2 separate regions of the Homo sapiens genome follow, and region 2 is linked to region 1. The links come from fine-mapping of genetic effects on gene expression. A gene starts in region 1. The other region holds a variant in brackets. All regions are shown on one strand. Distances are between the middles of the regions. Region 1 holds the start of KCNQ3 (potassium voltage-gated channel subfamily Q member 3). Region 2 overlaps KCNQ3 (potassium voltage-gated channel subfamily Q member 3).

Region 1 (12,383 bases):
ACAGAGACACAAAGCAGTCCAGATGTGAACTCCAAGTCTAGCATGTTTTTCATAAAATCAGAATCTCTTTCAGCCATAAGGTTAAAAAAACTAGAGAAGTGATCACCCTCACTCAAGTTAAAGCATGGTCTCCAATCTTGTTTTCTCTCCCATAGTCCATTTTTGGACTTCTAAGAACTATTCTTATAATTAAAGTCCTGTAATGCTGGCTTTGACTACTTACTGTTACTGGGATAGTAGTAAAGCTATTGCAGCAAAGTCTTGATTAACCAGAACCCTTACAGAATTCTCACATGCATCCATTCAGCAAATGCTTACTTAGTACCTACCATGCACTCTGCAGCCTGCTGTGGAGTGGTAAGGTTACAGGAGAATAAGCAGCTCCCACTCTCAAGTAGCTCTCAGCTCAACAGGGCAGACAAGCAGAGATCAATCAAATGCGAGGTACAAAATTCTATGCCTGGGGAAGCTGGGCCAAGGTGAAGGGGAGTCACCAAGTGAAAGCAGGGGATGGGCATTTGATATGGTTTGTCTCTGTGTCCCCATCCAAAACTCATCTCAAATTGTAATCCCCACATGTTTCCAGAGTGGCCTGGTGGTAGGTGACTGAATCATGGGGGTGGATTTCCCCCTTGCTCTTGTCGTGATAGAATTCTCATAAGATCCAGTTGTTTGATAAGTGTGTGACTCTTCCCCTTCACTCTTGCGCTCTCTCCTGGCACCACGTAAGACATTCCTGCTTCCCCTTCTGCCACGATTGTAGGTTTCCTGAGACTTCCCCAGCCATGCAGAACTGTGAGTCAACTAAACCTCTTTCCTTTATAAATTACCCAGTCTCAGGTATTTCTTTATAGCAGTGTGAAAATGGACTAATACAGGAAATTGGTGCCTGGAGTTTGGGGCACTCCCATAAAGATACTTGCAAGTATGGAAGAGACTTTGGAACTGGGTAATGGGCAGAGGTTGGGACAGTCTAGAGGGCTCAGAAGAAGATCAGAAATTGTGGGAAGGTTTGGAACTTCCCAGTGACTTACTGAATGGTTTTGACCAAAATGCTGACAGTGATATGGACAATGAAGTCCAGGCTGAGGTGGTCTCAGATGGAGATGAGGAACTTATTGGGAACTGGGGTAAAGGACACTTATGGTATGCTCTGTCAGAGACTGGTAGCATTTTGCACCTGCCCTAAAGATCTGTGGAACTTTGAACTTCAGAGGATGATTTAGGGTATCTGGTGGAAGAAATTTCTAAGCAGCAAAGCATTCAAGAGTTAACCTGGCTTATTCTGAAAACATTCAGTTATGTGCGTTCACAAAGGGATGGTCTGAAATTGGAACTGATATTGGTAAGGAAAGCAGAGCATAAGGATTTAGAAAACTTGTAGCCTGACCATGTGGTAGAAAAGAAAAACCCATTTTCTGCGGAGGAATTCAAGCCAGCTGCAGAAATATGCATAAGTAATGAGGAGTTGAATGTTAATAGCCAAGACAACAGGGAAAATGTCTCCAGGGCACATCAGAGAATTTTGTGGCAGCCCCTCCAATCACAGGCCCAGAGGCCTAGGGGGGAAAAATGGTTTCCTGGGCCAGGCCCAGGGCCCCACTGCTCTGTGAAGCTGCTGGACTTGGTGCCCTGTGTCCCAGCCGCTCCAGTTCCAGCCATGGCTAAAAGGGAGCAAGGTACAGCTCAGCCCATTGCTTCAGAGTGTGCAAGCACTGAGCCTTGGTGGCTTCTGTGTGGTGTTGGGCCTGTGGGTGCACAGAAGACAAGAGTTAGGCTTTGGGAACCTCCACCTAGATTTCAGAGGAGGTATGGAAACACCTGGATGTCCAGGCAGGAGTCTGCTGCAGGAGTGAAGCTCTCATAGAGAACCTCTGTGAGGGCAGTGCAAGAGGAAATGTGAGGTTGGAACCCCCACACAGAATCCCCAATGGGACACTGCCTAGTTGGACTGTGAGAAGAGGGCCACCGTCCTCCAGACCCCAGAATGGTAGATCCACAGACAGCTTGCACTGTGTGCCTGGAAAAGCCACAGGTACTCAATGCCAGCCCATGGAAGCAGCCACAGGAGTTGAACCCTGTAGAGTCACAAGGGTGGAGCTGCCCAAGGCCATGGAAGCCCAAGCCTTGCATTAGGGTGGCCTGGATGTGAGACATGGAATCAAAGGACATTATTTTGGAGCTTTTTTAATGCATGCCCTGCTGGGTTACAGACTTGCATGGGGCCTGTGGCCCATTTGTTTTGGCCAATTTCTCCCGTTTGCAATGGAAACATTTACCCAATGCCTATACTCCCATTGTATCTTGGAAGTAACAAACTTTTTTTTTATTTTACAGGTTCATTGGCAGGAGCAACTTGCTTGTCTCAGATGAGACTTTGGACTTAGACTTTTGAGTTAATGCTGGAATGAGTTAAGACCTTAGGGTGCTGTTGGGAAGGCATGATTGGTTTTGAAATATGAAAAGGACATGAGATTTGGGAGGAAGCAGGGGCAGAATGATATGTTTTCGCTCTGTGTCCCCACCCAACTCTCGTCTCAAATTATAATACCCACATATTGTGGGAGTCGCCTGGTGGGAGGTGACTGAATCATGTGGGCATATTTTCCCCTTGCTCTTCTCCTGATAGAAGTTTCAGGAGATCTGGTTGTTTGATAAGTGTGTGGCTCTTCCCCTTTGTTCTCTTTTTCCTGCCACCATGTAAGATGTGCCTGGCTTCCTCTTCCCCTTTGCCTTCTTCCATGATTGTAAGTTTCCTGAGACCACCCCTTCCCACCTCCGCCAGCCACGCAGAACTGTGAAACAATTAAACTTCTTTCCTTTATATATTACCCAGTCTCAGGTATTTCTTTATAGCACTGTGAAAACAGACTAATACAGCATTTGAGGCAAAAGAAACAAGGTAAGGGTTTGATTGATTTCCATATTTCCTGTATTCTACCTTTAGGAAGGAGAAAAAAAATAATCTCATCATGGACCTGGTTCATTTTAATTTAAAAAAAAAAAAAAAGCATCCACTAGATTGTAGGCCTATGGTAAGCCCAATTTCCTGGGCCCATTGTGCCATTAGCCACAGCCCAGAACAAGATAATGGATGCTTGAAAACATAAATTTCAATGCAAAATCCTGAATCATCAAGGAAAGGTTCAATTATGTTCACTTGACTGGACTGTCTCCTAAGCTGCAGGGAGAATGTACTATGCATGTACTAAGTAAGTATGCTTCAATATTAGGAGCTCAATGGGAATTCAACACAGGTTTTCCTGTGTAGCTCCCAATTTATCAGAATCCGCAATCCCACCACCACCCCAGTTCATCCTCAATTTTCCTAACACTGTGGCTTCCTGAGTTCTGACCAGCCCCCAACTTGATTCTAAACTCTCATTTCTAGCAATTTGCCATCTGAGAGCTAGCAAGGGGAGGCCAAGGAATTACTCATGGCCCTGCATTAACAATGGGGAAAGGGGCACCCAGTGACGCTCAGCAAAATACCCAGGGTCCCACAATTGTTGGAAGAGCATCAGAACTGGAATCTTGGCTCAGAAACAGAGTGAACCCACTGCATTCAAATGCGAGCTCCAGGAACCTTAGCTGTGTGATCGCGGACAAGTGATTTTCTCTCTTGAGGTTTTCATATCTTTATATAACGGAGATAATAATTTCCATCTAATAGTACTGTGTGAGGATTAAATAAAATTAGTACATTTGCATATTTGCATATATATGCATTTGCATATATAGTTCCTAGCTAGGTAACTGACTTTCTTCTCACAAAGTCTTAAATTTTCCTGGATCCTTTTTGGGAAACAGGCTCCAGGTTTTGGCATTATCAAATCTGCTTCCAGGTGATGCAATAATTCTAGAAAAAAATAAAATTGAGGCTCAGTCAGTAACAGCTTTAGCTATTCCCTTCCCCAGACTGGACAAGGCAGGGCTGGAGGTGCTGGCTGGGAAAGGTGGGAAGAGAAGAAAGAGGGAGCCCACATGCTTCCATAGGACCCCCAGGTTTTTCAGTCAGTACGTACTGAACGCGATGTGCATGTGAAAGGACACGTGAATCATTGTATGACTGTGTGCACTCAACGAACTTCTTGTGCCTTTTTTAACTATCACATATTTCAGTATTCACTTCAATTTAACTAAACATATTGCTAGAGACAGAGAGAGGAATGTATTTTAATGCTTTTTTTTCGGCCACCTAAAAAGAGCAAATGAAAGAGCAACAATTGTTAAGCCGTCTCTCCAACCAGACCCCGACCAACACCTGCAAATAGACACACACACACACACATACACACGCACACTCATACAGACACCAACATCCACGTTTCTGGGAAAATGCCCCACTCCCACCCCACCCTTCCTGCTGGTTCCTTAGTTTCCGGGAAGGCACCCTCTCCGGGCTTGGTAACCTCCTTGAAGAAACCTGTTGCTAAGTCTGAGGTCCTGTGTGGACGCCCCCACCTGGTGGCCGAACCTAGAAAAACGTCTCTAACCAAGAAAAACTGGCAGGTAGTGTAACTAACTCCAAGGCTCCTGAGCCCTTCCGACCACATCAGTCATGGGTGAATTGGAGGAGAATAGAGAGGAAAATCCACTGCTAAACGCGTGGGGGAGAGAGGGGGGAGGGGGGGTTGCCAAGGTCATAGGCAATTCCCTGCCAAAACCCTGGTACAGTACAGCTTCCTAGAAGCAGCCATCAGGATGACTAAACCAGAGCCAGAAGGCAGAGCTTGATGGCTGGACGTGCCCTGCCAGCTCCGAGATGGGTGCTGACAGCACAGATTTCCAATCTTGAATGAGGAGCACCCCCACCATCCTCTCCCCCCTCCCAAATACGGGTGGATTTTCCATCCCCAGTGGCAGGTGCAGAGGGAGTTCCTTCTTCCTTCTGGCCATGCATTTACATCGGACTAGCAAGGAGATTCTTTCTAGGAGAACAGTGCCTGGGTGCAAACCTCCAGGCCAAGCCCCTCACATTCCCGGTGCCCTAGGCCAGCCAAAGCAGGAGAAGCAGCAGCGACTGAGGCTGAGGGAATATCGGATCCCAAATCAAGGAGATGTTTCAGCCAAAAGAGTCCCCGGCCCCCTCACCTCCTGGCTCTGTGAAGCCCCAGCCCCTCAGTCTAGGCTTAGACACACACGTTCCCATTCACTTCCCTAAAAGGAATCCTAGAACATGCATTTTGGCCAGTCCCAGCTCCCAGTCAGAGCAGCACCAGGTTCTTCTCTGTACCAGTACCCAGCGATCAGAAGGGTGGCACAAGCAAGCGACACACACACACACACACACACACACACGCTCCCCACTATGGGTGGTGCGCACCCCTCCCATCCCCAACTAAACTCAGTGGCGATCCCAACAGAAGGGATCCACCCGAAACAGAAACACAGAGCTCACGGGAGGACCCGCTTTATCCTCTTCAACCCTCACATTAATTGGAAAAACCCACATAATTATTTTAAGCTTCCAAACCAACACCCCTAGAAGATGTCATAAATGTGCACCCGCGCGCGCACACATCCGCCCAAATCAGCAGGGGAACCACGCTTCGTTTTTTAAGCCCCTAGTGTGGAACACCCGGAGAGCGGCAACACACACACACACACACACACACACACACACACACACACACACCCAGGGAAACGCGTGCTGAGGACGGGCTGGTCTCCCCTTCAGCGGGAAAGCATCCATGGGTCTTAAAGCCCCAGAGACTTCTCAGCTCCAGCCCCGACCCCAAGTCCCCAAGCGCGCCGCCGCCGAGGGCGCCCCGAGCGGCCGGGTACTCACACCAACGCGTGGTAAAGCAGCGCCCAGCCCCGCGGTCTCTCCAGGGCGTCGTAGATCAAAGTTTGGATGCGCCGGTACTTGGCGTTGTTTCTCTTGACTGGGCGGCTCAGCGGGGTCTTGGCCAGGAGCCCGATGCCCTGCGGGGTCCTCCGCTGCCCCTCGTCGCGGCCGCCGCCCTCCAGCAGCAGGGTCCCGTCTTTGTCGGCTCCGGCCCCGAGCGCCAAGGTGACTTGCTCCACGTCGCCGGGCGCCAGCCCCACTTTCCGCTCCTCGTCGCCGGCCGCCGCCGCGTCCCCTCCGGCTGGGTTAGCCGCCCCGCCGCCTCCGCCGCCCCCGTCGCCGCCGCCGCCAGCCGCCCCCGCCGCCCTGCGCGCCTTGAGCCCCATCTGCCTCGCCCCCGCCGGCCGCTTCGCCTTCTCCGCTGCTGCTCTGGGAAGAAGGGGCGCTCGGGGTGCGTGAACGAGGCGGCGGCGGCGGCTGCAAGCCCGGGAACTCCAATGCCATGATCCGCGCGCCCCTCCCCACCCCCCCCCAAAAGCAGGCAAAGGCGGGCCCCCTGGGGGGCAGGGGAGGCCAGGCAGGGGGTCAGGGGGTCACATCCCGCGCGGGTCAGCCGCAGGACCCCGAGGGTCGCGGGCCGGGGGCTGCGGAGAAGCTGGGAGGGCGCGCGAGGCTGGCGCGGAGGCGCTAGGGCGCGCGGCGGCGGGAGCCTGGAACCGGCGCTCCGGGGCGGCGGCGGCGGCGGCGGCACCCAGGCCGGCGAGCCCAAGACAGCATCGCAGTTTATTTACAAGCCCGGTGCCAGCCGCCCTCCCGCCCGCCAGCCACACGCGCCGCCGCCGCCGCCTCCTCCCTCCTCCGCGCTCCCACCCGCGCCCCTCCCCGCCCGTTCCAGCCTCAGCCTGTCAGCAGCAGCAGCAGCGAGCGCGCCGCGGGCCGAGAGCACGCCGCGTCCCTCCCTCCCTCCTTCCCCGGGGTGGGGCCCCATTGTCCCGCCCCGTCGCGGCGGGAGGCCCGGGCGGCGGCGCCCCGCCTCTTCCCGCCGACCCCCACCGCTGATTGTCTGGGGACCCAGGATCGCCTGGGCTACCGCCGCCCCCGTTGCAACCAGGCAGTGCGCCAGGCGGCTGCAGAGCCCGGCTCCTGGAGCTCCCGTGGGCGTTGGGGCTTCCCCTGGATGGGGCGTGACGGCGGGCAGTTGGGGGAAGAAGAGGAAGGGAGGAGGGACTGGGGGGTTGTCGCCCACCAAACATTGGCTCTGTGGTTGCAGCTTTGTGAATTTCCCTCACCCCCTACCCCTGCTCCTCGGCTTCAGAGGTAAAAGCCAAGTTGTCGGGTTGGTCAAGGCCGGGCGCACCGCGAACGCACCTGCTCTGTGGTAGCGAAGCTCGTGACTCCCTCTTCCCTCTTCCCTCTTCCCTCTTCCCTCTAGTTCGTGGTTCATGGTGGATGCCGCGGCCCTCTCCTCCCCCAATCTTTGAATAGCACCTTCACCTGTCTGGGTGGGCAAAGGACTGAAGAAATGCAGTCAGAATCTTTGATTCCTGCTTTGCTCCCGACTTGCACCCAAGCCAGTCATTCCCTCTCTGGTCCAAATTTCAATTCAATCAACCAATCTGTAACCCCTCGTGAGCTTCCCTGGCAAAGGGTAGTGATCTCTGTCCTGAAGATATGAGGTCTCTGCACTCCTAAGACCTCCGTCCTAGCCGGTGGAAGACAATGAAAAGACAAATTTTAACAGTAGAATTTCCGATATTGGTAAATAGTATGTGGTAACAAATTAGAGTGCTGCGCTATAGTGACTGGGGGAGTCACTCTAAACCGGCTGGTCGTGGAAGGCCTTATTGTGGAGGTGATGCTTCGAGGTGAGACCCTAATGACAAGCTGGGAGCAACTATGTAAATGTCCAGAGAGCCCTCCAAACAGCAGAACAGCGGGTGCGGAGGGGAAGGGTGGCTTGAGCTTAATGAGAGTAGGCCACAGGCAAAGGCTAGATCTTGTAAGACACTGACAAAGGACAGGAGCATCCTGCACTTCTTCCATGCCCACCGCCATCGGGGAAGCCTCCATTCCTGCTGCCCCATGGCATCTGTGGCCTCCTTTCCTTCCCACTCTCTCACCTCATGTCTGTCAGCTGGGGTGAGAGACATGGGGTGAGGGGAGACCCTGTGAACAAGGCCGAGGATCTATCCCTAGTGTATAAGAAAAGAGGAATCAGACCTGCAAGAACACCAGCTCTGGATTTGCCTGGAGAAGTTGGCCAAGGAGAGCATAGGAGACAGGGAAGGGAAGAAGGAAGGGAAGGGAGTAGGAATGTATGGGCTGGGGCAGGGGAAGGGTCAGAGAACCACCACCCTATAGAATGACTATCAAAGGGGAGAACCTCAAAAGAGGTCTCCAAATCAAGAAGGGAGGAGTTTCCAGAGGAAGTTAAACTGTAAGACTGAAATCATTAAAACAGTGTGGGATCGGTACAAAAATAAACTCTCAGTGCAACAGAATTCTTTGTCCAGAAACAGACTCTAGCATGGGAACTTAATATTAAACGGGAAGAGTTCATGACAAGAACCCCAGGGGAAAAGGCTGTTCACTGGTTGATGGGTTTTGTGAGGAATTATAGGAAATAGCATATGGAAACGTGGCAGTGCCCAGTAGGACCCCTGTACATCCGTGAATAGATAAATGCTCAGCAGTGAGTTGGAGTAAGTAACCAGTCCAGCAGGCTCTGGAAAGGAGAAAAAGCCCAAGGAAAGGGAATTGCTTGGATCAGAATATCTCCAAATGGGAGCTGGGCACTGCAAAGCCTCCTCCTGCCCATGTGTTAGCCCTGCCATGCCCAACACACCAAACTCACGTGTATTCTTCCTGTCCTACTCCCATCCCAACTAACCAGGAAACAATCTTGCCCTTTATCTCTGAGCACCTTTTCCAAAGTCGCTGTTCTCCCTCAGTCTCTTCCTGTTTTGTTCATTCATTACATTTATCACTGCCAAAAATGATCGCATTTACATTCTGTTTACTTGTTTACTGTTATCTTACTAAACAAGAGCAGGGACTAAGCATCCTAGTTTTGAATCCTGGAAGTGTGTCTGTCATATCACAGGCTCTCAATCTGTGTTGGCAGCATGAATAAATGATGAATAAGCGAATGAAGAGTGTAAAGCTCTCAGCACAATGCCTGGCACACAAGCATTCCATGTATGTTTGTGGGTGAGATTTTTGTTTGGTTTCGTTTTACCATTGTGAAAGTCTTCATACTTAGGAAGTCTTGCTGCTCCTTTATGCTCCTTGCAACTTAAGAAACATGATAAAAACATTTTGACAGTATTTAAAATAAAAAGGCTCACTAGATAAACATAAAAAGAAGACGAGTCAAGGAATGTGGAAAGAAGATGTGAGAATTTATTATTGTGCAATTAATCAAAAGTTCAGATTCCCAGAATGACAGTTTGGATCCTCAGATACATGAAAAGACTTCTATTTTGATGGGAGCTTCAGACTGTCAAGTATTACAATTTAAGATAAGGTGCAGGGGCTATTTGCATGCCTCCCATAAAAGATGAGGTTAAGTCAATAACAAATTCATAACTGAGCCAATTAAACCCAATGATAGGGAAACTGCCAGGTAGTTGAGTCTAGTAAATGGAGTTGCTTTGATGGTTTTATAATCCAATGGCAAGCAGTGTTTAGGCTTCTAATAGGGGCTTTGGAAATGTCATCAAAAGCAGGGTGTGCACTGAGTGTCATTGGAGGAACTGTGTAATCACAGCGCTCCACAGCACAGGTTTCAGCTAAAGAAAATCAAACATCCTATATCCCACTGGAAGGAAACTTCTCAGAGGCCTAAAGTCCCTAAGAGCCTCAGGTTCCAGCTGAACATGGCACCAAAGCAAAGAGTTAGCGACACACTATCAACAAGGACAACAATGAGGCATTCCTCTCCTGGCTTTGAGCCCCAGCTCAAAGTGTAACATTGAAAACCCACCCACCTGCTTCCCCTCCTCCATGCCTTAGCTTTCATTTTTGCTTTTCTCTTTAGCTGGTCTTCATCTCAATGTATAGGCGAGATGTTCAGGTAAACTCTCTCTCCCTTGCAGGTGAGGCACTTCCTGGGAATGAGTAAAAAGAGAGAGACAAAGGGCTTTCTCTGAGCCTACATTTCTGCCTCTGTAAATCCAGGGTTGTAAGCATCTCATGATGAGGTGATATTCCAGTGATGGTTATTATGACTGTCATTGAATGAGTAGGACAGTCTCAGGTTCACAGGCATATGCAAATGGTGGTCCTGCCTGCCCCTCTCACTCTGTTCCCTAAACACATTAAATAATTGCTTTAGGCCAATTTTAAATTTACTTTTATTATTTGTTACACAAGAAATGCAAAGTAGTTGTTAGGAAATTATGAAATGTAAATCAGCCAGAAGGCAACAGTAATCATCTTGTTACCCAGAAACACCCTCTGTGAATATTCTGATCATGACTACTGCCAACAGGACTGAAGCATGCCTGACCTGCAAGCAATGGAGATGCTCAGCCCCCAGTGGGGCACCTTCCCTAGGGGACCAGTCAGCCACTTGGTGGCAAGTTGATTACACTGGACCTTCCAAACATGGGCGGGGGCGGACATATGCCATTACTGGAATAGACACGTATCCTGGGTACAGAATTGCCTCTCCAGTCCTCAATGATTCTGCCAACAACACCATCCATGCATTTAGGAATGCCTCATTCACCGTCAAAGAATTCCACATGAAACTACTTCTGATGAAATCATTTGTCCCCTAAATGCTTACTCTGGACCTGGGTATAAATCTACCTCTCAGAGGAGCCAGTGAGACAGATCTTTGTAGCCAAAAAGAGCACTCTTTGCTTGTTTGGAGGAGACACGACAAGCTCTAATTCTGGGTCTAGGAACAACCCGGGCCAAAAGGAAATATGTTTGGGAACAATGGATCCCATTACTACCCTATATGCGTTTTTTATTCTTGAAAACCCAATCTCAGCAAATCCTCAAATTTACTGCCCCCTCTTCTCTTCCTCCAGGTCTTCTTTTTGTCTTTCCCTTTCCTAGACTTCATATCACTGTACACTAGGACAGAGGAACTCTTGTTCCCTTACAGGTGAGAAGCCTTCCTGGGAAGGAACGAGAAGAAGCTAAGGAACACCCTTGTACATGTCACTCAGCAGAGGAGGGCAGAATAGAGTTCAGCATTTAGATCGTCCTGGCTCTGTGACTTTGCACTTAGTGACCTGAAAAAAGTTGCCAGACTTATTTCTAGCCTGCTTCCTCAGCTGTTCAATGGGACAATGTTTCTTATCCTCCCTGCCTTAGACTTGGTCTGAGTATCATTCCTCCCAGGATCCACGTTAAGGTAGGGCTTTGCAGCCTGTGATGTACTGTGCACATTGACTACATTACTGAAAGGCATCTGACACAGCATCGTGGAAGGCACTCAAGTCAGGCATGATGGGGAATGAATGAGCTCCAAGCCAAACGGCGCTCACCTTCTCTCCAGATGGGAATGATTAAGGGGCTTAACTTAGATTGTTCTCAGTTGGAAAAGTGTTTCTTTTCCTGCCTCACATTTGCAATTTTTACATTAACCTTCAAATTAATTTTGCATGTTTCTTAATGTCACTTTTGTCTTTTTCTTTTAAATAATTATGTTGGGTAAAATATCCAATTTATCTACTTAACGAATTCATTCATTCATCCTTCCAGTGAGCATTCACCAATTGCCTGTTTTATGTGTTGCTCTCCATCAATGAAAAACAGAAGAAAAAAAATTAATTCTATATTTAGTTCCAAAGATGAGCTAATAAAATGCAAAACAATTTACTCATCTTTCTACGGTCATTGCTGTCAATGACCTGGCTCGTGATGGATGCTTATTATCATAATAACATTTATCGTGTGCTTCCTCTACACTTGGCACTGGGCTGACTGCTATATATAGATTATCTCATTTAATCCTCACAACAAAGTTATGAAATAGGCATTATGGCTATTGCTTTTCATATCAACCATGATGAAAATTATACTTAGGTTAAATACTGCACCCAAGTTTACATGATTAAGAAATGACAGCCCCAGGATTCAAGCTCAGGTGATCTAACTTTGGAACCTATACATTTAACCACTACAATGTATTATTTCCTGAGAACGCTATTCCAGGTGGCAGGTTCAGTGTAGGCAAAGGCTTGGAGGCAAGACAGAGAGTGGAGTTTCCAGGGAAAGTGGTTGTGATGGTTGGAGGCAAGCGTGGATGGAGCAGAGGCCACATGGGGAAGGCTTTCATATATATACCAGGCTTATGGACTTGGGGGTCATGAGTTACTTTAAGCGTAAACTGACCTAATCCCAGGTGGTTCCACAAAGGGCTTTCTGACAACTCTGTGGAGGAGAGGTTGGAAGTGAGAAAAATCAATTCAATCAGAGCAAGTACAAGGCAGAGCCCAGCTGAGAGGTGTTGAGGCAGATCTTGGAGAGGAGGGGCTGGCTGCAAGAGGTATTTAGAAAAGAATATTGCCAAGAATTGCTACCTAAAAAGACAGGGCTGGGTCATGGGTCACTTTGCATCTTAGAGGCAGAA
Region 2 (12,383 bases), 37 kb before region 1:
ACAGGCCTAAGGTTTTAGTTCTGGCATCCACTCATGGCTGGTCTCTGTGCCTCAGTTTCCAAAAATATGAGATGGGGACAGTGGTTCCTCTCCTGCCTCCCTTGCAGGTGAACATGGAATACTGAATGTGCCTGTTCTTTGAAAAGCTAAGTGTCTATTTCTAACATTTAATGTATTAATTTAGTTTACACATAGAAATTTAATACTCTGCATATGTGTTCATTTAGAAATATTTCTAATTTGCCATACTCGTTTGGTGAAACCATTTATTCTTTGATATCACTGTTTCTGATGCCTCTATACACTCTAATTCCTCAACTCAGTTTTCCAGAGCATCCTGTATTCTCATGCACCGTATTTTCATACATCTAGGTTGCTTGGGAGAGATACATCTTTTGAAGCCATCCGTGATGCTGTCACTGAAAACTCTGTCCCAGGCCCCAAATACCCATCCATCTTTGAGGATCCTTACACTATAACCACTAACTCTACTGAGGTTTTTCTTTCATAGATCTTTAAAATAATTGTTCACAGCAGTTTAACTTGCATTTGTAAGAACATTGCCCCAGGAAAAATGATTTAATCCATTAAGCAGCTTTGTGTGTGTGCATGAAGCCAATTCCATTGAGTGACTGCTACAAGTGTCTAAAACTAGCACTACTATGTTTATATCACAGGCAAATGTGCCCCTTCCTCAAAGAACCTGTTGTAACCTGTTGTCACAAAATAAAACAACTGAGATGGTGCCACATAATAAAAATTTTGTAAGGACTCAATTATTAGGTGATTCTTCTTATGAGAAATACATTTAGGAAAAACTGCTTTCTATTATAAGGTGATTCTTCTTATGAGAAATACATTCAGGAAAATTTGCTTTCTATTCAAGTCTGTATTATATAAGACTAGAATTCCTGCCTCTTTCAGGTCCTCAGATACACTGAAGTCTCCTTCTGACATTTGGACCAAGCTGTCTCAATCCTTGGAGCTCCTGGGCTGCTTCCAAATGCAGTAGAAAACAGTGGCAGGATTTAAGGTCTCTGCCCCGATCCCACCCTGCCCATTCCTCCTTCTATCTGAGGAACTTAGGGACTCCACTGGGCCCTCTATTATTTTCCTGAGGAAGAGTTCTGCCTGATTTCTCTGTGGTCTGTGATGACCAACAGGAGATGTGCTCAGAACCCAGAGGCCCTGGCCAGGCTCCTTACCCAAGGGAACCCCTGCAACGTGTGGGTGCGGCTGCTTGGTGATGGACCAGTAACATCTCTGAGAGTGATGATGGATGGTGGTCAGCTGCTAGGAGAGCCCTGGCTTGGGTGGTCTGGTCATTCTCTGTGGCGCTCATGGAGAAAAACTAATACTGTGGAAAGAGACAGCGAGACTGAGCTCAGGTCAATGAAAGGAAATGTGGTCAGCGTAAGACTCTCTAAGGATAGCTGCCGTGTGTTGTTCCCTATCACTAAGAAGGTTCATGAACAGTCTAGGCTACAACTCTCAGGGCTCTTGAAGAAGAGATTCAAGCATTGCATGTGGACTTCTATGAAGTGACCTTAAGGTCCATTCCAGCCAGATGTAACATTTTGTTTAACCATTTCCAGCCTGGCTGAACATTCTGCTATCTAGTGGCAGTCTTCAGCCGCAGTGTGACGGAGGCCAAAAGCAGTTTCTCTTTGTACCTTATTTTCTGAAGAAATCCTATAACCCTGGATGACCCAAATACCCATCCCACTTACGCCAGCTCCCAATACCCCCATACTTCCTACCAAGCTTTATGCCGAACCAATTTTTTCATCTGGGTTTAGATTTCCCACATCCCTAACCCATTCTGGCAAAGTCAAGATTTACCCCTGCTGAGTAACATGACTTCTGGACTGAGCGGCAAACTCATCAGGATAAACCAGACTCCGGAAATTCAATTCATCCCAGCAAACCTTTTTGAAGTCTACTGCACAATTATAAATCTAAGTTTCAGTGCCCATTTTAAAGATGGAAGGCTCAGAGAGATGAAGAGCCACAGTCTCCCAGCAGTTAGGCAGCAGGACCGCGGCTTCATGGCAAGCCCCCTGACTCCCCAGCAGGACTTCTCACTGAGAAAGAAGGTGCTTCCATTAAAGCCTCCATTAAAGATATTCATGTTTTAACCCCCAGAATCTGTGCTATGCTAGGTTACATGGCAAAGGGGAGTCAAGGTTGCTGAAGGAACAAAGTATGGTAATCAGCTGACCCTAAAGAGATGATTCCAGATTACCTAGGTGGGCCCAACACAGCCACAAGGTTCCTTTCCAGCAGAGGAGGGGGCAGAGAGGAGTCAGAGTGAGAGAGAGATTGTGCTGCTGGCTTTCATGATGGTAGAAGGAGCCATGAGCTGAGGAATGCAGGTAGCCTCAAAAGCTGGAAAAAGCAGGGTAACAGGTTCTCTCCAGAGTCCAGAAGGGACACAGCCCTGCTGACACCTTGTTTTACCCCAGTGAGACCTATTTTGGACTTCTGACCTTCAGACATGTAAAATAACAAATTTACACTGCTTTAAGCTGCTAAATTTGTGGTAATTTGTTACACAGAAGTAGGAAACTACAGTCATCCTTCAGTGTCCATAGAGGATTGGTTCTGGGACCTCCTGAGGATATCACAATCCCAGATGCTCAATCCTTAATACAAAGTGGTGTACTATTTGCATAGAACCTGCAAACATCCTTCCGTATACTTTAAATCATCTCTAGATTACTGTAATACCTGATACAATGCAAATGCTATGTCAGTAGTCATTATACTGAATTGTTTCTTTTTAATTTGTGTCATGTTTTATTGCTGTATTGTTCATTTTTATTTTTCTGAATGTTTTCCATTTGCCATTGGTTTGAACTCTTGGATGCCAACAGTCATCTCTGTGGCTCTCTCCTTTACTCATTCCAGTCTCTGCTCAAAGTCATCTTAACAGAGAGAAGCTGCCAGCAGCACAGATGAAGTGCTGCCCTGCACTTGCACAGTCTTTCCACCGTTTTCCCTGCTGTCCTTCATGGCGCTGACCAGGTCCTGCAGTATCAGGCGTCCCCTCATTTCCTGGCATGTGTTTGTCTTCCCACACTAGAACGCAGCCCTGAGGGGTGGCCTTGAGTCCTTCCTTCCCTCTGTGTCCAAGCCCAGAGCCTGGCCCCGCACAGTGTAATGTGCCCTGAAGAGTGAACACATGAATGTGTTGGTCACCGCCCCATTGTGCAGCGTAGTTCTCCATGTCGGTCGTGGGAAACTGAGGCTTGGAGGGGTTACGTGACCCTTTCCCCACGCCACGAAGACAAGGAAGCAGGAGGAGAAAATACACTAACTTTGGACAGCCTCAATCTGGATTCGAACTCCACCTCTGCCCCTTACCAACTGTGCACACACAGGAGGGGGGTTACTAACCCCTTGAAGTCAGCTTCTTCCTGCAACACAGACAGATGCCACTCTGCCACCCTCACAGAATGTTAAAGTGGGCCAAACCCTGCAAAATACATAGCCCAGCCCTATCAAGTCCTATTCAAAGGTGACACTGTATTTATCAGGGACCATGAGTGACCTTCTGCTCAAAGGGGTATGGCATTGCCATCAAGAAATCAGAACTCTGCTTCTCACCTGTTAAGGTTTAGGGCCTGCCAGATATCCGACCTGCACTTAACTCTCTATTCTTATCACAGAAACTGTGGAGTGGATTTGATTAGTTCTATTTTACAGACCAGACAACTGGGGCTCCAAGAGGAGAAGTAACTTACCTGCCCCACATGCCACAGTCAAGACTGGCAGCAATGGTGGGGCCCAGTACACTCTTTCCCACCCCCAACACTTGAAGACCTCAAAAGTAGGTTGATGCCATGTCTTTACTACTGTGAATAGTGTTGCAATGAACATATGTGTGCATGTGTCTTTACAATAGAATGATTAATATTCCTTTGGGTAGGCCAGGTGCAGTGGCTCACGCCTGTAATCCCAGCACTTTGGGAGGCCAAGGCAGGTGGATCACAAGGTCGGGAGATCAAGACCATCCTGGCTAACACAGTGAAACCCCATCTCTATTAAAAATAAAAATAAAAAATTAGCCAGGCGCGGTGGCAGGCACCTGTAGTCCCAGCTACCCGGGAGGCTGAGGCAGGAGAATGGCGTGAACCCGGAAGGCAGAGCTTGCCGTGAGCCGAGATCGCACCACTGCACTCCAGCCTGGGCGATAGAGCGAGACTCTGGCTCCAAAAAAACAAAAATCAAAAAACAAAACAAAACAAACAAACAAACAAACAAATATATATATATATATTCCTTTGGGTATATACCCAGTAATGGGATTGCTGGGTTGAATGGCTTTCTGTCTTTAGGTCTTTGAGGAATTGCCATACTGCCTTCCACAATGGCTAAACTAACTTAAACTCACACCAGCAGTGTATAAGCATTCCTTTTTCTCTGAAATCTCATCAGCATGTCATTTTTTGACGTTTTAATAGCAGCCATTCTGGAATCAACCTAAATATCCGTCAATGATAGACTGAATAAAGAAAATGTGGTACATATACACCACGGAATACTATGGAGCCATAAAAAAAATGAGATCATGTCCTTTTCAGGGACATGGATGGAGCTGGAGGCCATTATCCTCAGCAAACTAACACAGGAACAGAAAAACAAATACTGCATGTTCTCACTTATAAGTGAGAGCTAAATGATTGAGAATACATGGACACACAGAGGCGAACAGCATACACTGCGGTCTTTCAGAGGGTGGAGGTGGGGAGGAGGGAGAGAATCAGGAAAAATAACTAATGGGTACTAGGCTTAATACCTGCTTGATGAAATAATCTGTACAACAAACCCCCATGACACAAGTTTACCTATGTAACAAACTTGTGCTTGTACCCCTGAACTTAAAATGAAAGTTTAAAAAAAGAAAGTAAACCGGATTCTTCCTCCATATGTATCTCAGTTTCAGCATCTGTGAAGCCCACTCTGAGCTGTCCCAGGAGTATAAATCCCTTTATGCATTAGGCACCTCTCCTCTGGAGAGCTTAGCAAGGGGGTAATTTGACATTTATTTTTGTAATTCCTTGATCAATGTCTGTCTCCCCCACCAGGCTACAAACTCCATGGAGCTGCAGAACCATTTGGTGTGGGTTCCCCACTGGTTTCCCTGGTGCCTAGCACAGAGTCTGGCAACGAGTAAGGGCTAAAATGTATTTTCAGAATGCACCAACGGCTGCAAAGATGGACTCTAAATGCCAATGGCAAACTTCTCAAACTCTAGCTTCCAACAAGGTGGGCCAGATTTTCTCCTAGTTCCCCATACAAGCTACCCCGGGGAGCCGCATGAGCTCCTACCCGGGCCTTGGTCTTCAACTGACCTATGAGGTCAAGGCATTCTCTCTCCCAGAAGAAATATCCAGGGCAGAAAAACCACTCCCACAGTGCTCAAAGCATTTCCCTTTGAACATTTTCCTGCTTCTTATTTTATTCATAACCAGGCAACCTGAAGCTTTAACAGGATACATGGTTTTTTCTCTCTTCTAGATTTAGAGAAAAAAATGTTTGAGATATTTTTAACTGACAACACCCAGCCCCTTCTCCCTATGCAACACCCTCTCCCCGAATCTGTGCTCAGACACCCTATCTCAGCCCCAGAGACAGGCTCCTGAGGCCGAAGCAGCTCAGGCCATAAATCCTCATCTGCGGCCGGTAATCCACATGGAGAGAAATGACAAATGCTCTATTTAGCCCTATTTCCAAGGAAATTAGAATTACAAATTGGAGCTATTGCTAAGGCCCCGCTTGAGCATAACCTTTGGAAATAAAGGTAGGGAGGGGGTCGGGGAGGACTGGCATTTGGCTAGCCAATTTCTTTGTCAGGTTAGCTTTTGTAGAAATCCACCCCCACCTATGGGAATCACACCCCTCCCCATCCCTTCCACCCCCAGCACTACCAATTAGAGCCGGTGGCCCAGGAGTATTCGCTCTGGCTTTGTTCACCGCTAAAGGCACCACCAAACCAGGTAAGCAATCACTTCCAGGGAAAGTACAGAAAATTG[CTTCT/C]TTAATTGGGTAGTTTCTAGGGCTAAGAATAATTTAATTGAAAACCAGCATTAATGAGAATCAAAAGGTTTTAAAAAGGGGCCTGGATGGAGATGTCCACGTGTCAGAGACAAGTGACAGCCAGAGTTCTCAAAAGATACATGGAGAAAAGGGCTTTGTTAAAAATCCATCATCCCCCACTACCCACACTCCTACCTCACTCCTCCAAACACACCCCTCCCCAGCACAGATACACAAGGCTGATTTGGATGCTTATTTCGAAAAGCTTCATCTCATCTCCAAACCACTGAGAACTACTGGGGTAGATGTTTTTTGTTGCATTTTGTTTCATTTTCTTAATTTTGCAGCCAGTAGTGAAATATAAGGCAAACAGTGTAGATTTCTACGGGGTGAGTTCCAGGAGCCCTGAGTTCAGGTCCCGTTCCAGTACCCACTATGACCCTGGTCAGGTCACCCAGCCCTCTGACACTCTTTACCCCCCCATTTGTCTTATTTACTCAACAACTACTTTCACACAGCTAAGGGCCAAGCATTGTTCTCAGCACTTTATAAATAATAAGTGATTTAATCCTCTTACCAAGCCCCTTGGACAAGCACAGTTCATTGCCCCCTTTTCTTCTTATCAGAAACCCAAGAGGTACCGAGAGGTTCAGAAACTTGCCCACAGTGACACAACTGGCAAGTTATGGAGCTGGGAGTTGAACCCAGCAGTCTGGTTCCAGGGTCCACCTCTGGCAATACACAGAAAGGATGCTACCACTCCATCAACCCCTATTTCCCAAGGGGTGTGAGTGCTCAGAGGACGTGGGTGGGTTGCTGAGCCCATTTATCTCATGTGATTTAGCTCATGCCCCTCTAATCCTTTTGCACCTGTCTCCTGTGTGCTCCCTCCTGCCCTCCTCACCCAGCCACCAACTGGTTCCTGGCATTAAGCTCTGTTTCTGCACTTTGAGTTCTGATTCTGTGCCTTCGTGCTACAACTGGGGTCATCTGTCCTGCCCCGTGTGAAGGGTCTACACTGAATATCGTTGAATCAAGGATTTTATTCCAAATAATGAGGCACAAACTCATAATAAAAAGACAGCATGGTGTGGAGGACAGGAGCTGGTGCTTTGCAGCCCAGCAGCTGGGACTGAACTTAGGAAAATCATGTAACTTTTCTGTGCCTCCACTTCCTTCTTGTAAAAATAAAGGAATAAATAATCAAGCCTACTTCATAGAGTTGTGCAAACTGAGCATGTTAAAATAAGCATAGCTCTACAGAATGCTACGGGGAATGTGGTATGAGACAGATGCACAGTGTGACACAGCTGACCACAGGTCAGTGCTGCTCCGCCAACTGAGCTGCAGGATGGCAGATTGCAGAGAGCGTGGGATTTGGTGGCATTGGACTTTGACTGAATCAGGCATGGGACTCTGTCACATCAATCAGCATCTCCAAGCCTGTTCCTTTTATATAAAATAAAGAGAATAATAATTCCTGCTCACTTCACCTGATTATGAGGATTCGACAAAGCAGAGTGCTTTGTAAATTACAAAGGAACCTAGAAACATTGAGCTTTATTCTTAGAACAAAATTAGTTGGTGAGAAAGTATAAGGAGACTTGGATTTCAGGGTAGTAATATGGGCTAAAGCCTTCAGGGTGTTTCCAGGTAACATGCTCTGCACCCGATCAATATCACCTTGTAATTCTCACAATTCTATGCCTGTTTTATAGACACAAAAACCTAAGGCTCAGAAAGGCAAAAGGACCAACTGGTGTCATGAAAAGGGGTGGACTGACATTTGGAGCCAAGTCCCAAATGCTCTTAATTGTGGCATTACATTGTCACATTCCTGTCACTGTCACTTCATGGGGAAGCAAAGAGCTGGCCTTTCAGAAAGGAAGAGGGTCAGGCCCCAGATCAGGAGAAGGAGAGGCAGCTGTGAGCAAAGGTGAGGAGGAGGAAAGGCAAGGCAGGTCTCCATGGCCCAGGGCAGCACAGCCACGTGGCTTTCCCGCCTCTCTCCTCCAGACTCTGCGTTCACTGTGGGCAGGGACACATTAGCTTGCATTTATTTCCCCCATGCACCTGCCCCATCCCCAACATAAATATTTTTAAGGGAAATCAAGTGAATGAATGAATGATATTACTCAACTGAGGCACTAAGATCAAGTTAAGAAGAAATAAAAAAACGACTCTAATAAGCAGTAAAGCCATGAAGACATCTTCCCCAATCCTCCAAATCAAATTAATTTTCCCTCCTTTGGGCACCCTTAGTTCTTCTGTGATTAGCCCCACCCACCCACCCCAAAAAAACACACAAAAAATCATTATTATTAATATCATTTACTGAGCTCTTACTATGTGTCAGGCATTTCCCATACAGAATCCTATTCAAGTCTCACAACTACCCCATTTCACAGATGAGAAAATCAAGACTCACCAAGGTTACAGAACTGGGCTAGGTCATACGGTTAGTAAACCCTTGGTTTCATCTCAAGTCTCTGTTTCTGAGGCTAGAACTCAGCTGTTTCTCTACATCCCTATCTGTCTGCCTATTAAACACTTTATAATTTTCCAAGCAAGAAGTCCATCTTACATGCCCATATGCCCGGGATACCTTGCACAATGCTGGGCACAGAGTAGTGTGCTCCATGGGCATTTGCAGAGCTGAACTGTATTTAATCATCTGTGTCTATTCAAAGGCTGAGGTCTTTATCAGATGGGAGCCCAGAAGGGATAAGCTGGGTTACTGTTTGCCTCTCCAAGCAGAAAAAGAACCAGATGACCTCCTGGTACATGTTTATTGCTAACGGCCCTGCAGTGGCTTCCACAACATGCCTCAGCCTGGATCCACCAACCTTAAGCTACTCTAAAGACAATGCCTTCGTGGTGGCCAACAAGATTAGCACCCAATTAATAACTAATTTTGGAAAGACTGTGCAAAACAGCTTGGCAAACTGCATCATGCCACACATTAGCTTGACCTGAGAGCACCCTGCCTGGAAATGAACAGATCAAAGGGGCTGAAAACATGAGCTTGGGAGACCCGGACTCTGCTCTCCTTGGCTGCTGGGAATCTGTGTGTCCTTAAGCAAACTCCCTCCTTCCCTGGGTTCAGGTTCTTCGTCCTTTAAGCTGAAAAGCAGAGCTAGACTGGGAAGACCTCTTCCAGGTCCAAAATTCTAGAGCTCCGGGATACAATTAAAGCCAAGCAAGGCAACCAGGATGAGTCTATGTGTCAGCAAAAATTCCCAGGCAATGCTAATTACTGGCACTTAACCAACTCATAGTTAACTCCAGGTAATTTCCAGAGGATTTATTACAACTCTGAATGCTATTTTGTGAGGGAAGCAATGTATATTTAATATTGACAGTACAGGAGGCAAGTTCCCTTTCTCCAAGCCCATAAATTATCCCAGGCGACGGGAGGACAAAACTACCAAAGGCTTGTTACAAGCAGGCTGCCTCCCAAACAGAAATCAGGCTTAATAGAAAACAATAAAAAAGATGTAGGAGGAGACGAATTTAAAGCCAGAAGCACGTGAGTGGTGTGTGAGACAGCATGTATGTGTGTATGTGAATGGCCTCAGAAAATCAAACGATAGAAGTCAGAGAGGAATGTCCAATTCATCTCATTACCATTAGGGTAGCTTCCTGTTCAATCCCACAACAAACATTTCCTGAGCCCCTTCTGGGAACCCAGGGTGAGTCACATCAGACTTGGTCCCCAAATAAGCTATGCATGTGGCTCTTTCCCTCTCCCCCTGGGACTCTGAGTCCATCTTAGGATGCTCTGTTTTCATATCCCCAAAATGAGAATCCAAAGACTTACATCGTGGCGTGTTCTGCAGGCTTCATAAGGTAATGAATGCAAGAACAAGATTTTTAACAAGTGGTGGTAACACAGCTAGAAATAACCCTAAAGCAGGGCAGAATGGGCAGACAAGGGTCAAGATAAAGGTACCAGAGAAAACCACAGGCAGACAGTAAAGGTTTCTAGGACACAGATGTGGAGAAGACACTGCAAGAAAGAAGAAAAGGAAGAAGGTGGGGAAGAGGTGGTGGAGGGGTACCTGTGCGTGGGCCACACAGTGATTGGCTGTGTGTGAGGAAAGAGACTGAAAAAAAACAGGAGAAAGAAAAGTAATGGAGATTAAAGAAAAAGAAGGAGCAGAGTAGCGGGTGAGCTGGGTTATGGGAGAGAGAGAAGAAGAAAAGAGGACGTAAACCATAAGGGAGATAAGATAAAACAGAAAATCAATAGAAGTGCCTAAAGTTGATTCATCAAGAGACAGCGCCACGAGCGCATGATTTAGAGATGCAGGAGAACCACCAGGAGTTCTAAGGACAGAAAGAACGAGACTGCCTCTGGGGAAGGGGCTGTGGCTTTTCATTTTTAACCTGCCTTCCTATATGACTTTGGGCTTGAATATATGTATGTATTCCTCTGATAGAAATAAAAATAATTGAAAGCATTTTTAAGAGATGGAAACAGAAGTTACCACGGCGTAAGTACTACCTGCTGGGCATCACCCCCAGCGACTTATAAATACCATCTCATATTTGTCATCCCAACCACACTACAGCGTAACCAAATCCCCTTTTCATTTTCCTTTAGCTGCACTTACTTTGTGGGGGCTGTTGTGAGGATTGAAAGAGCACAGGTAAGCAGCTACAAATGTGCCTGGAAAATGCAAATGCTCAATAAACGTTCCTTCCTATTGTCAAAGAATTTGACAAGCACTCCTCCTTTTTCCTGGGAGCTATTCTGCCCCCTGTTTTGTAGCAGCTGTCATGCCATCTTATGATCCTTTCACCCAAAGACACAGGTGGGGAATAAGGGTTCTGCAGTAGGCACCTGAACCCAGCTAAGTCAGTGGGTCCCTAACTTAGGAAGGCAATTACTTTTCTTCACTGTAAAGCCACACCCCTCACTCAGGCCTTCTTGATCTCCTTTGGGGTCCATGAGCAAGCAAGATCCCTGGGACGCCTCAGCTGGTTTAAGATGGGTTTCTGCTACCAGCCTCTGAAAGTGTCAAGGGAGTTCAAAAGCAAACGTCATGTAGGCGTAGGTCTCTCCAGGGCTTTCCCAGAACAAGAAGCTGAGCTCTAAGGGGGAAGAAGGAGAAATATGAAAAAAAAAAAAAAAAAAAAAGAGGAAGAAGAAGAAAACAAAAGAAAAAGTAAAAAGGAGGAGGAGGAAGGATGTGCTTGCAGTGAATTCTGCGTTTTGATTGTTGCTATTTTATAGCTAGGAAAAACTAAGCAAAAGCAATCTCTGGTCACAGCTAGAAAACTATTATTTGCGTTTCTATCTTTCCAACCCACGATCTGTGCCATTTGGATTTCATGGTCTAAAAATATCTCCCAAACTTCCAAGTATGTTGGCATGGGTTGATGGACTTAAATTTTTAATCCATTTGTAAATGTTTTCACACAGCTCTTTTTTCCCTCTCAAATTCTATTTCTTGCTGAATCACTTCCATCATTTAGTTTGGCATTTATTTGAGCAGGAAGGAAATCATCTTGAACACAAATGTCAGCCCTGGCCCCGAAGGCTCCTGAGAGAGAAAAAAGGCCAACACGGGTTAGAGACTGGTGAGGTTGCCACGGTACGGCAGGAAGAGCACCGGCTTCGGTGTAGACTATTCTGGTTGCATCTGGCTGTGTGACCCTGAGCAAAATATTGGACCTCTCTGAGCATGTTCTTCAGCTACGATGTGGGGATAATGAAATTCAGTTTAACAGTGTTTGTAGCCATTCAGTGGGTTAGAGCCCCATGTGTACCTCCTAGCACAAGGCAGGAGCTTAGTAAATGGCCTCATTGTGAATTTTAGGTGTCATCTTGAAATGTGTCTTGTAAAGACCATGTGTATGCCTGCCTCCGCATCCCTTCTCCAGCCAATGGCAGAGTCACTCTTGCAAAACACAAATCTGATCATGCCACTCCCGACCGTGAAACCCAGTGGCCACAGGATCGGATTACAGTGTTCACTGTAGACCACTGTGGTCTACAGTGAACATAGTACAGTGGTCAATTTCCCATCCCCCCTCCACACCAGCCTCTCCAACTGCCTGCCCTCCAACCTCCCAGCAGGATGCTCCTACTCTGCCTCTCATGGTTCTGATTTCCAGTTCAGGTCCTCCAGCTCAGCCACTCCCTTTTCCCACCTCTCTAGACCCCCACAGGAAAACACATCTCTGATGGTATTCCCTCTGGAGCCCTCAGATTCACCCCCCACACCATTGGCCCTGCCTGGGTCATGTGCTTACTCCTGTACCTGTCATCATTGTCAGGTGAGGCCAGCTGATCCCAAACAATGAAGTGAAGAATAGGAAGGAATTAAGTCCCC

Evidence for each region.
Region 2: its variant is fine-mapped to the expression of KCNQ3 in cerebellum (GTEx, PIP above 0.99).

The regions. Positions count from the first base shown.
Region 1 is chr8:132,474,356-132,486,738 of GRCh38, forward strand. KCNQ3 (potassium voltage-gated channel subfamily Q member 3) reads right to left here and starts at 6,740. Exons shown (of 15, transcript NM_004519.4): 1 at 5,792-6,740. The coding sequence starts at 6,177.
Region 2 is chr8:132,437,339-132,449,721 of GRCh38, forward strand. The region is part of intron 1 of KCNQ3 (potassium voltage-gated channel subfamily Q member 3); the gene reads right to left. Among named protein-coding and RNA genes, the nearest start is that of KCNQ3, 38 kb to the right of the region's middle. The variant CTTCT/C (reference allele first, on the strand shown) is at 6,039.